Regions from separate parts of the Homo sapiens genome. Here all the other regions are reported to be linked to region 3. Evidence: microRNA targets listed by miRTarBase, many of them from high-throughput screens and not tested one by one. Region 3 holds a microRNA gene; each other region holds the end of a gene's coding sequence.
The links. Region 3 holds the annotated microRNA hsa-miR-6081 (AGGAGCAGUGCCGGCCAAGGCGCC, at 1,226-1,249, opposite strand). A microRNA usually pairs through its seed, bases 2 to 8, with sites in the 3' UTR of a target mRNA and lowers its output. Matches are read on the target gene's strand: a 7mer-m8 pairs with bases 2 to 8, a 7mer-A1 pairs with bases 2 to 7 and ends in A, and an 8mer does both.

Region 1: the mRNA of HIF3A is a reported target of hsa-miR-6081. Seed matches in the 3' UTR shown: 7mer-m8 at 544-550, 8mer at 1,125-1,132, 7mer-m8 at 1,243-1,249, 7mer-A1 at 1,496-1,502 and 7mer-m8 at 3,601-3,607.
Region 2: miRTarBase lists USF2 as a target of hsa-miR-6081. Seed matches in the 3' UTR shown: 7mer-m8 at 2,753-2,759.

What each region holds. Positions count from the first base shown.
Region 1 is chr19:46,339,243-46,343,353 of GRCh38, forward strand. HIF3A (hypoxia inducible factor 3 subunit alpha) reads left to right here. Exons shown (of 15, transcript NM_152795.4): 15 at 283-4,111. The coding sequence ends at 380. Among named protein-coding and RNA genes, the nearest start is that of PPP5C, 5.8 kb to the right of the region's middle.
Region 2 is chr19:35,278,353-35,282,457 of GRCh38, reverse strand. It overlaps USF2 (upstream transcription factor 2, c-fos interacting), which reads right to left. Exons shown (of 10, transcript NM_003367.4): 8 at 3,666-3,760; 9 at 3,384-3,512; 10 at 2,637-3,291. The coding sequence ends at 3,202. Among named protein-coding and RNA genes, the nearest start is that of HAMP, 2.1 kb to the left of the region's middle. RefSeq lists enhancers at 1-68, 1,455-1,504, 1,595-1,674, 2,114-2,258, 1,765-2,264 and 1 more and a cis regulatory region at 2,180-2,193.
Region 3 is chr9:95,062,544-95,066,654 of GRCh38, reverse strand. It overlaps MIR6081 (microRNA 6081), which reads right to left and starts at 1,305; the gene lies at 1,209-1,305. The region is part of intron 14 of AOPEP (aminopeptidase O (putative)); the gene reads right to left. RefSeq lists an enhancer at 3,168-3,877.

The DNA of each region.
Region 1 (4,111 bases), not on the chromosome of region 3:
TTAAATTGTATAACCCGACCCCAGCCAATAAAAAAAAAGTACAAAAACAAGACTTGCGTCAAAAATAAAGGCTCTTGTGCCCCTTTGTTCCAGTGTGCTCTCATGGCAACTAGCCAAAGAGGCACCCCTCTGCGCAAAAGTAAAATTACTAAAAATCCTTTGTTCGAGTGTTCAATTTCCTTAAGATTTTAAACATTATTCCTGACATTGGGGTTATGGTTGTCCTGTGATTTATCTTTCGTCTTTTACCTTTCATTTATCATTTATCTTTCATCTTTGCAGGCCTGGGCCCCTCACTGCTCTCTCCGTACTCAGACGAGGACACTACCCAGCCCGGGGGCCCCTTCCAGCCAAGGGCAGGCTCAGCCCAGGCTGACTGAGCCGGCTCCTCTCCCCATCTGCCTTCTCCTCCCCCAGAAAGGACCTCAACCACACTCCACGCCGGCAGCCAACGCACAGGATGGGGGCGCCAGGAGAGGGGCCCCTCTCTCCTCTATGTACCCCCTGCCCACCTCGGGCCTACCTCAGCCCTCACCCCTCTGCCTGCTCCCAATCTGGGGGCTCTCTGGGGTGGTCTCAGCTCAGTGACCTCTGGGAGGTGGTCCCTGGCCCCCTCCTCCTTCTCTCAGGATTTCTCTTGGGGTTCTCAATACTTGGTTACCTCATTATCCCTTTCTCTGCCTCTCTTGGCTTTATTTTGGGGAATCAGGGGTGAGGAGGGTTGGGGGGGTCATATCTGTGTTTCCAGGTTCTGGGGAGAACAATGATCCACGGGTCAACGTGATCACATTTCCTTCTATCCTTCTTGTATTATTATTTTTATTTTTGTCAATTTCATGATATGGTTTTTAATCATGATGAATTGCCTGGGGTCTGTAAGAATGTGGGACTCTGATCTTCCCCCTCTTCAGGTGTCAGTGCGGAGAGGCTCTGGGCCAGACCTCACCCCCAGTGACTTCCGATTGAGGCCAAAGACCCCAAGCTGCCCGCCAGCTCTGACTGCCCCTTGCGCTCTGGGCTTCCTGCCGCCCCCAGCTTTGCCTGGACACTGACTTCATTCATGGTCCTCCTACTTCAGGGGCAGCCTCCCAGTTCCTCTGCTTCCAAACTATGCAACCTCCAACCTGCTCCAGTTCCAGACTGTATAACCTCTGACCTGCACTGGTTCTAGACCACACAACCTCCAATGTGGTCTGCTTTAGATCACCTTCTTCTTCTTCCTTCTTCCTCTTCCTCTTCCTCCTGCTCCTCTTCCTCTTCTTCTTCTTTTTTTTTTTTGACAGAGTCTTGCTCTGTCACCCAGGCTGGAGTGCAGTGGCGCGATTTCAGCTTACTGCAGCCTCCGCGCCCTGGGTTCAAGTGATTCTCCTGCCTCAACTTCCCAAATAGCCGGGACTACGGGCATGTGCCACATTGCCCGGCTAATTTTTGTATTTTTAGTAGAGATGGGGTTTCACCACGTTGTCCAGTCTGGTCTCGAACTCCTGACCTCAAGTGCTCCACCTGCCTCAGCCTTCCAAAGTGCTGGGATTACAGGCGTGAGCCACTGCACCCGGCTAGAACTCACTTTCTCCAAATCCCTCTGCTTCGAATTTCACCGTCTTCAGCTCTTTCTAGTTCTGGGCCTCACCAGCCTCTCATTCTGCCTGTTTTCAAACCTTACGATCCCCAAAAATTGTCTGGTTCTGGGCCTCTAACTCCCTCTGGCTCTATAGTCTATGACTACCAGATTCTTTTGGTTCTAGAATTCACTAACTTCCTCTGGTTCTAGACCTCTTCCTATAAATTAATCCCTCTTGTTTTAGATCTCACACCCTCCAACGCCCTCCGGTTCCAGATCTTATATTCAGTGATTTCCTCTGGTTCTGGACCCCACAACTCCAAGCTTCCTATTGGTTCCAGTTCTCCTGATCGGTAATACATTTGGTTCCAAATCCAGACCTCTTAATCTCTCTCTTTTTTTTTTTTTTTTTTTGAGACAGAGTCCCACTCTGTCACCCAGGCTGGAGTACAGTGGCTCAATCTCGGCTCACTGCAGCCTCCACCTCCTGGGTTCAAGCAATTCTTGGGCCTCAGCCTCCCAAATAGCTGGGATTACAGGCATGTGCCACCACGCCCAGCTAAGTTTTATATTTTTAGTAGAGACAGTGTTTCACCATGTTGGCCAGGCTGGTCTTGAACTCCCGACCTCAACTGATCCACCCGCCTCAGCCTCCCAAAGTGCTGAAATTACAGGAGTGAGCCTGGCCAGACTTCTTAATTTCTAAATCACTTTTGTTTTAGACCTTATGAGGCTCAGCTTATTCTTCTGCAGTTCTCTATAACCAAGACTCATTTTCTCTCATCAAAAACAAGTACAGAGAGTTTGATGTGTTTATCTCTTTTTTCTTCCTCTTCTTTTTTTTTTTTTTCTTTTTTGAGATGGAGTCTCTCTCTGTTGCCCAGGCTGGAGTATAATGGTGCCATCTAGGCTCACTGCAACCTCCGCCTCCTGATTCAAGTGATTCTCCTGCCTCAGCCTCCTAAATTGGTGGGATTACAGGAGCCCACCACCACATCCGGCTACCTTTGTGTATTTTTTAGTAGAGACGGGGTTTTGCCAAGTTGGAGGGGCTGGTCTTGAACTCTTGACCTCAGATGATCCACCCGCCTCAGCCTCCCAAAGTGCTGGGATTACAGGCATAAGCCACCGTGCCCGACCCTGTCCTTATCTTATAATAACCAGTTCTTCTAGAACCAGACGATGCTCTAGTTCTCCTAGATTCTGAACCTCATGACCTGTACCACTCACTAGTTCCAGACTACACAACTTCTAGAAGGTGCCACCTCCAGGGTCCTGATTCAAGATCTGGTGATCTGCTGTTTCTCTGGTTCTAGAACTGACTTACAAGTGCCTTCTGATTCTAGACCTCATTCCGTAAGTTCCCTTGGCTCTAGACTTCATCATTTCCAGCTCCTCCTCACTCAAGATCTGACTCCAAATTACCCTGGGTCTAGAATTCAGCCTTCAAATATCTTCTGATTTTAGACTTTGCCTTATACATTTCTCTGGTTTTAGATCTTACCACCCTCAACTCCTTCTGATTCTAGATCTTATGGTTCCCAAATCTCTCTGGTTCTAGAACTCAGATTTTAGGCTTTTGTTTTTCCTTTTTTTTGTTAAAAAAAAAAAAATAGAGACGGGGTTTCACCATGTTGCCCAGGCTGGTCGCGAACTACTGAGCTCAAGCAATTCTCCCTCCTTGGCCTCACCAAAGTGCTGGGACTACAGGCATGAGCCACTGAGCCCAGCCAGGCTTTTTCTAATTCTATGCTTTATTCTATAAATTCCTCTGCTTCTAAGCCTCACAGCTTCCAACTGCCTTTGATTTCAGATCCAAATTCCTCTGATTCTATAATTCAGCCTCCAAATGCTTCTGATTCTGGAATCTAGACTTTTCCCTAAAGATTCCTCTGGTTCTGAATCTTATAACCTCAACTCCCTAATTCCAGACCCCAGCCTCCTAAATCTATTCTGGGCTTCCCACCCCACTGAACTTACCCAATTCCTTCTTTCAGTCTTAAGTTTTCCCATTCTAAACCCCTACCCTCTAGGCTGTGCTGCTCCTGGACTTCATGCCTCTCCATTCTCATTGCCTACAATCTCTGTGCCCCAGAACCCCCTCCACTTCCCACCCCAGCCCTCCAGACATGCACTTACCTTGACTTTACCCCACATGTTTGGGGCACCTGGGGCTCCCTCACCCCTTGGGTGGTTTGCAATCTGAAGACTTCTCCAGCCACACAGGCACATGCACAGGCACGGTGCTGTCTGCATATTGCCAGGTGGGGAGAGAAGCCAGGACCCCTCAGCTGTCTGCCACCATCTATGTGCCTCCCTTACCCCCCAGCTTTCTTTCTACAGATGGTGCTACTCTTGGTCTCCCACAGGAAAAGGCCTCCCCCCTTCTTAGCCCCATTTACCCCGTTTGTGGAAGGCACTGCTCGCTCTGTTTTGTCAGAGAGTGGCCTATCCAGATTGGTGCTATGGGGGGGTCTGACCCCTCCCTCCTCCCTCTGGAGGTGATGTGGGCCCTCAATGGAGGGAATTGTGCTGGGCTAGGGAAAGGGG
Region 2 (4,105 bases), not on the chromosome of region 3:
TTGCTCTGTCTCATTTCCAAGAAGGTGGTGGCGCCGAAAAGGCGGGAGAGATAAGCGGGAACAGAGCGACAGGGAACAGGGTTGTGTCACCCTCAGCCGGCAGAGGTGTGTTCAGGGGGTGGGGCAGACGGGGTCACAGACACACACTGCTCACCAGCCATCTGGGGAGCCCTTTCCCCATCACGATGTCATTCTGCTGATCGGGAAAAAAGTTCCCCCTTTTGCTTCAGCGGTTAAGCAGTTTGATGAGCAGAATCAAGGTTCCGCTCTCCTCCACTCACTTCCCCATCGCCTACATGCACACGGGGCATGGCCAGCAGCCGCCAGGCTCCTCAGGAGTGTCTGGCATGTTGGGGGAAGCATCCATTGCTTTAAGCTCTCACCACACGTGCATAGGTTCTGGCAGGGAACACTAGATAGCCCTGAGCAGGGCAAGCATCAGCGTGTGCCCGATCCGCACGTGGTGTTTTCCCAGTGTCAGACCCTTGAGATGTGGCTCTGGTAACTGGAAAATGTTTGAGCAAACTTTTGGCCATAAATGACAGCAGTAATATGGCCCAGCACAGTGGCTTATGCCTGTAATCCCAGCAATTTGGGAGGCCAAGGCAGGAGGGTCGCTTGAGCCCAGAAGTTCAAGACTAGCCTGGGCAACATAGGGAGACCCCATCTCTACAAAAAAAATTTTAAACAAATTTAGCCAGGCGTGGTGGCACACATCTGTAGTCCCAGCTACTTGGGAGGCTGAGGCAGATCGCTTAAGCCCAGGAGGCTGAGGTTGCAGTGAGCTATGATTGTGTGACTGCACTCCAGCCTGGGTGACAGAGTGAGACCCTGTCTATAAAACATAAAATAGCAGTAATAGTAATAGCTAACATCTACAGTCCGATGAGTACATTTTATACGATGGCACATATGTTGACTCACTTCTGCACCAACTCAGCCTGTGCTGCCTGTTCTCCCAGCAGCACTTACTGCCCCACCTTCAGCTCTGCTCTGTATTCAGGGGCTGCCTTCTCAGTCACCCAACCCCAGAGGCCTGGGCTCCCCAGACCCTGCTCCCTTTTAGGAACCTCCTCCCCGTCGGACACTCATTTCCTTCACTTTACAGAAAAGGCACTGAAGGCAGAGATCAGGGCATGGCCCAAGCTTGCTCAGCCAGAGGCAGAGCTGAGATTCTAGCCTGGACAGCCTGACTCCAGGGCTTTTGCTCTTACCCACCAGGTTTCCCCATCTCCCCTAAAACACAGCAGGGCACAGCGGTATGCTAGACCTGGCTCAACATAGCAGACCATGCACATCTCGAAACTCTGCATTCAGTGGCATCATGCTGGTATCCTGAAATCAGCAGCAGTGGGAGTCTTGACACCCAGAAATTGGCAAGCACTACAAGCCAGGGATGTTTTTGGGGAGCCGGTTCCTTAGGACACCACTAGCTGGGGGATGAACCCAGGCTGCCTGACTGCAGTGCCTTCATTCCTTTCCACTACCAGGCCCAGCTCAGGGTGCACACGGCCCAGGGGATCAACAAACCTTGGTTCCAGATGGGCCCTTGCACATTTTGCCTCTTTGCCTTTTTCATTCCAGGGCCATCCAGTGTCAGCCAAGTCACCAGAGCCCGGGGATGTTGTTGTCGAGGAATGAACACTTCTTCCTGGTTGCTGAACCACTTTCAAGGCCCACTCAAGCACAGAAATGCACAGGCCCTGCCATCTGCCTCCTCATCCACACCACGTGGGAGGCTCCTCTTGTCACAGCCTGGGTAACAAAGCGAGACCCCATCTATACAAAAACTTGGCTGTGGTGCTACGCACCTGTAGTTGGTCAAGGCTGCAGTGAGCCGTGATTGTGTGCCACTGCACCCCAGCCTGGGTGAGAGTGAAACCCTGTCTCTAAAAACTAAATGAATAAAGATGGCCTCAGATGGGAATAGCTAGGAAAAGGAGACAGGGCTCTTGTGGGAAGAGACGAGTGCAGGGAGTGGGGGAATTGGGGAGGAAAGGCAGATGGAGCTCCACAAGGTGAGCAGAGTGGCAAGCCCAGCTCCTGGGAGTTGAAGGGTGCTGCAGGCTGAAGCAGGGCCCAGTGAATAGGGGTGTGCTCACCTGGGGAGACACAGGAGCAGCCCCCAGCCCTACCAGGCATCGCTGCATCTCAGCTGAGGACAGGTTTCATCATCAGCAGGGGCAGGGGTCACAGCACAGGCGCCAGAGCCTTGGTGCAAGGCGACAGGCTGACGGGCCAAGCTTGGCGCCCTGGCCATCTGCCCTCCCTGGGGGTGAGGGGCTCAAGGCCAGGCCCCACTATTGGCTGGTGCAGAGGGGAGGGCTTTGGCCCAGCAGGGCAGGGCCAGGGGCTGGTTGTGTTTTCAGGAACTGTTGACACGGAGACCCCTGCCTCTCCTCCAACATGGGACATGTCCTTGACCCCAGCTCCCCACACCCTCATGCACGTCTAGGGCCTCAAAGGGGACATTCATTCCTTAATTCCTCCATCCATCCAACCAACCACTGGGTAATGGGTGGTGCAGCTGGCAGGGACCATGCACAGCCATGTGCACAACAGCAGAACCATGCCTCGTGGAGCTCTGCAGACCCCAGGCCCCCTCCCCACTCCTGAGATGGACAAACACACAAGCAGACAAGGCGGGGGCCACATGGGGCCAGTTTATTGCAGTTAAATACCTCTCTCTCTATTTTTTTTTTGTCAATTTTTCCATAAAGAAAATTAAAACACACACACACACCCCCAAAGGGGAGCAGGGACCCAGAAACAAGAGGTGGGGTGGGACGTGGCCTCCCTGCATAGGTCCAGGCCCCGGGTGGCCCCCCAAAGGCTCCCCTCCTTCCCATCAGCACCCTGTCTCAGTACCTCCAGAGAGCAGGAGGCAGCGGGACGTGGCAGGGCCTCTGTCCCCTCCCTCTTGCCTCCAGGTGAGACCACTAGAAGTGCCGGGGCTTAGTGAGGGCCGGGAGAAGGGCGACAGACAGACGGATGGGCAGGGAGGATACCGTTTCCAAGTGGAGGAGGGCGGTGGGCACTGTATCCACAGAAATGCATTATTTCTCCCCGTTTTTTGTTAAAAATCTACTATAAAAAAACGCAGCTGGGGGAGGGGCATGTGTCCCTCTCTGTGCTAAGGGCTGGGGAAGGGGGCAGCAGAGGCCGGCGTGGGCGGCGGCGGCTGCGTGGTGGTGGCGGGCGTCACTGCCGGGTGCCCTCGCCCACCATCTCCAGGTTGTGCTGCTGCAGCTGGGCTCGAAGCAGGGCGTTCTCATTCTTCAGCTCCTCGATCTGGCGGACACGACGGAGGTCAAGGGAGCTGAGGGCCAGCGCCTTGCATCTGGGGCTCCTGGGCCCTGACCCGCTCCAGGCCCCGCACCCACCTGCTGCCTCAGGAGCTCGTTGTCCATCTGCAGCCGCTCGGCCTCTTTGAAGGTCTCCTGCATGCGCTGGTTGGTCTGGCGCAACTCCCGGATGTAATCGCAGGCCTTGGACAGGATCCCTCCTTTACTCTGGGGGGCGAGGGGACCAGGAGCCTTAGGGCAGGCACCGCCCACCGGCCTCCACCCCAGGGATGACTCCCGAGCCCCATGGCTGTTGGACTTTCTGCATGCAAGGGTCGGGGGCCGGGACCACCGCAGACACTGAGGGTCCGGGGTGCTCACCGCTCCCGTCTTGCTGTTGTCTGCGTTACAGTCTGGAATGATTTTCGAAAGCTGGACGATCCAGTTGTTGATCTTGTCCCTCCGCCTCCGCTCCACTGCGGAAAACAGAGTCACAGCCACGGCTTCGCTGACGGATCATGCCTGAGCGGCCGTCCTCACAGGGCAGAGGCTCAGCCCAAGGACACCCAGGAACAGTGCAGGCCCCACCGAGACCACAGCCCTGGGAAGTGAGGGGCCGCACCCTGAGCCCAGCCGGCCCCCACCCCAGCTTCTCAAGAGGAACAAAGAAACGTGGGCCCTCCAGTGCCACACATGCTTTTAGGACGGGCATCAAAGGCCAGGCACTTGGAGATCATTTTGCAGGCCTGCCCCACCATACTTGTACAAATTTTAATCGACAGTTAAAAATAAGGAAATTTCTCATGGTAATTGGCATCACT
Region 3 (4,111 bases):
GAGGTCGGTAACAGTGGGCCCACTGCTGAACCCTGTGCAAACAGCAGACGGCAGGGACACTCTGCAACCAGTGGCTTTTCTAATAAAGTCTGGCTGAACCTGTAGCTAAAAGCCACCTATTAAATGCCCTCTCTCTTTAAACAGATAAATGCTAAGCTGACCATTTAAGAAAAATTAGCCAGATTATGCTGTCCATGGCTTGCTTCTTCTTTACTTTCATTTGCTATAAATTCACAGTAAACAAAACACAATCTTCAGGAACAACACAGGAAATTATTTATCTAAAAAAGAAAGTTCTTTGTGATTTTAGATCAGCTTTTTAAAAAAAAAATCCCTTTATCACAGTATAACAGGGGAGATGCTGTTGCAGGCTTTCCACAGGAAAGTTCCAGAGGCACTGAATTGAATAACAGAAAGAAAACCCTAAGAAGGATGTACTGAGAGACAGACCGTCCTGACTTTGAAAGAATGTTCTGAAACATCGATTAAATGTTTCATAAACCAAATAAGACAAAGAAAAAATGCACAAATAAAACCAGAGAACTCTATTCTTTCTCCTATCATAAAAAGCAGATGGTGTAAAAAGATATGTCTAAAGTAACTAAAGACAATTACCCCAATCCCTTTTTTCAATCTATACCCACCTTTTAAACTCTAGAAAAGGAATAATGCTCTGTCAAAGGGACAGCCATGACCCTCACAAGCATGGTCTCAGCTTTCTAAAAACCTGAAGTCACACTATTCACAGGCCATGTTCTAAAGTTCAGACTCATCGGTATCTGGCCTCTTGATCTGTAACCTAAGGTTGATGGCATCAATGGGCCAGTAAGCCAGACCCCTGTACCTGCAATCATACTGTGAGAAACGGCCTAATGCTGAGCTTCTGTGGGTTGCCAGGTGGAGGTGGCAAGTGTCAACTTGCCCTTTTGGGATCCCGGGGGGACCTGGTTCCTTGTATTTTACCCTATAAAAGCATTTCACTAATTGCACACACTACTCTGACACTCCACAATGGTGTTCTTTTTCATGTTCAATCTGAAAACCTGCCTTGTAGGGCTCTGTTCCACAATGGTGTCTCCTGACAATGCTGGATGATGACGTGGTGAGCCAGCTGGCTTAGTAATGAGGCCCTGGATTCGCCTGCACCAAGGGCAGCCAGCAGGAGAAGGGGAGGAGAGGAAAAGGGGGCCTGGGTGGGCCCCCTGGACATCACCAAGATGGTGCCGGCGCCTTGGCCGGCACTGCTCCTATTCATAAGCCTCGGTGTCCTACGGGGCAGAGGCCCTGGTGCCAGCACCGTGGTGGGAGAGGCAGAGCTGGGTGCTGCCCTCACACACCACGATGACAGGACCTGACGTCAGCATAGCCAGAGTTTCTGCCTTTATTACGCTTAGACTCTGGATCAAGGCAGACAAGAGGAAGGACTTCTAAGTTCAGCACACTACATATTAATAAATCTAAAGCATCGAGCATCCTGAAACAGCAACAGAGCCCAAAGAGATTATATCTAACCTTTCCTCTAAGCCACTCTGTAACAAAACAAAATAGAAATGTCTTACTTATTTGTAGCCAGAATACTATGAAAAAGCAACCAGGGAAGAAAAAGAAGCTCCAACAGCAGGGAAAAGACCCTCCTGAACATTTCACATCTCCAAGCCCTCCAAAGCAGAAGACGAAAGTCATCTCTAATGGAAAGAGTTCTAGCACTGAAAGGAACGAACAGAACCACAACTATGGATCAATTTTAGAATCTGGAGATGTAACAACCATCAAACCTTCATTCTTTGCCCCTTTGGTAAGTTCCTCTAGAGTTCTATTAATCATTAAGTGCTTGAGTCACAGAACTATGCTTTTGGCCCAAATGAAATTCATAAATGAGCATTAAAGCTGTCACATGATTGTGTTGCTGGACTCACAACTTCCACCTTTGGACTGCAAATAAATGCTATGGTGCTTTCTTCCCAAGTAAACAATGTATTAGTAACAGCATATTAAGATAAATACCAGCTTGTGGACCCGCCCCCTGACCAATGGCTTGTGTACGATGCATCAAAAGAGGTAGACGAGGCCAGGCGCGGTGGCTCACGCCTGTAATCCCAGCACTTTGGGAAGCCAAGGCAGGTGGATCATGAGGTCAGGAGTTCGAGAACAGCCTGGCCAAGATGGTGAAACCCCGTCTCTATTAAAATACAAAAAATTGGCTGGGCGTGGTGGTGGGCACCTGTAATCCAGCTACTCGGGAGGCTGAGGCAGAACTGCTTGAACCTGGGAGTTGGAGGTTGCAGTGAGCCAAGATCGTGCCACTGCACTCCAGCCTGGGAGACACAGCGAGACTCCGTCTCAAACATACAAACAAAAAAGAGGTAGAGGAGACCTAGACCCATTACACAGGGTCTGCAGGGCCTCTTCAGCTACTGCCCGTGCTACGGGACAGGCCTGTGACGCTGGTCGTTTTTTCCATTTCCAATCAACCTGGAGTTTCCTTTCTATCCTGGAAGGCAGCCGGATGAGTGCTGAAACAGGTATGCCCTTACAATCTGTTTCCTCACATTCACTTGCTCCTACTAGTTTAGTTTGCAATTCTACATGAAAGAGTGGAGCCTCCCAAGGTTACATTCTTTGGCACTTTGGGAGAGTATAGCTGTCTTAGGGTGGCCTCTAAATGTTGTTAGCAAGCTTTTTCTAGCTACTCCCCTCTGTGCTGACACCTTACTAAGTTGAGATTTTTTTTTTTTTTGAAACTGCCTTTTGTCAATTAGCTGTAGTCAGTCAGCAGGAAGAGCCGCTCACGTGCACACGAGCACCTGGGGCCAGGCATGAGGGCCAGACCCTGAAGGGAGACCTCCAGTGAAGCAGCACCCCGGAGAAGACACAGTCACAACACACGATACCCACACTTTCTTGCTCCAATCCAATCTCGGAGTCCTCTTCCTTTCAATCAACACTATTTCCCCCACACAGTGAAGGGAAGAACGGGTGCTACCAAATTCTCCCAGAAAACTAATGTTCTTATTAAGCATATCAACCAAACTCAAAGCAGGGCACGCTGCAGCATGGGCCTTTCGGATTCGTGGCCACCAGCAAAACAACACAGGGGGAGCCCATCCCCTGAGGCATGGCCCCAGTCTGAAAGCGCTCAGTGGAGTCTGCAGAGATCTGAAAGCGCTCAGTGGAGTCTGCGGAGATCTAAAAGCGCTCAGTGGAGTCTGCGGAGATCTGAAAGCGCTCAGTGGAGCCTGCAGAGATGCTGCTGCCTGAAGGTCAGTCATGGACTTCCTGGGGGAAAGAGGTCAGAAAGGCAAGGTCCAGGGATCCTCATCTCACTGCCATGGGTAGCTATTTTTACAGCTTAAGAGACCTGCTAAGGCAGGCAGGAAATGTGTTACTTAAAAAGGGATCTTAGATAACATGTTTTGTTCCCAGAGTTAGCTGTCAAATATATTTTTTAAACTTTTATGGCTATTTGAGAAATATACTCAAAAACTGCAGAAAGACAAGGTGCTTCTGTGGAACGGATTTCCCTTCGGCTCATTTTCCGTGCTGGCTGCAGTGGCCCAGCACCCGCCCATAGTCCTGAGGCCTGCTACATACAAGATGGCTGACTTTGAGGTCAGCTTCACTCTCCAGGCCAAGGAGCATCAAGGAGCGCAGCCTGTGCCCGCCCTGCAGAGGGGTGGCAAGGCAGGAGGTAGCCTGGGATGGTTTGCCTACTCCACCCATGCTCTCAACTCTGTCTGTCCTTGAGCACTTTTCCTTTCACATTCTGAACACGGGGGCATTGCCTCCATGAAGAGCATACACCTGGGTCTTCACATCACGTGATGCAGGCACATGGAGGGCAGGCAGGGTGTGCATAACCTGAGATAGTATTCAGAACCCTGGCCCCACAACCCCTCGACATTCAAGCCCTTGGCAAGCAGCCGCAGCAGACTCAGTGCTACACTCAGAAAATCAGACCAACAGATCAGATGCTCTGTGAACACAGCCCATACACAGAAGCACCACACATAGAAAGAATGGTTAATAGTAATCTCGTCCCTCCTTTCTTCCTTCTCTGTGTGGGTGGGCCTGTACCGGCCCATCCACATGAAAAGAGGGAGGGACAGACCGG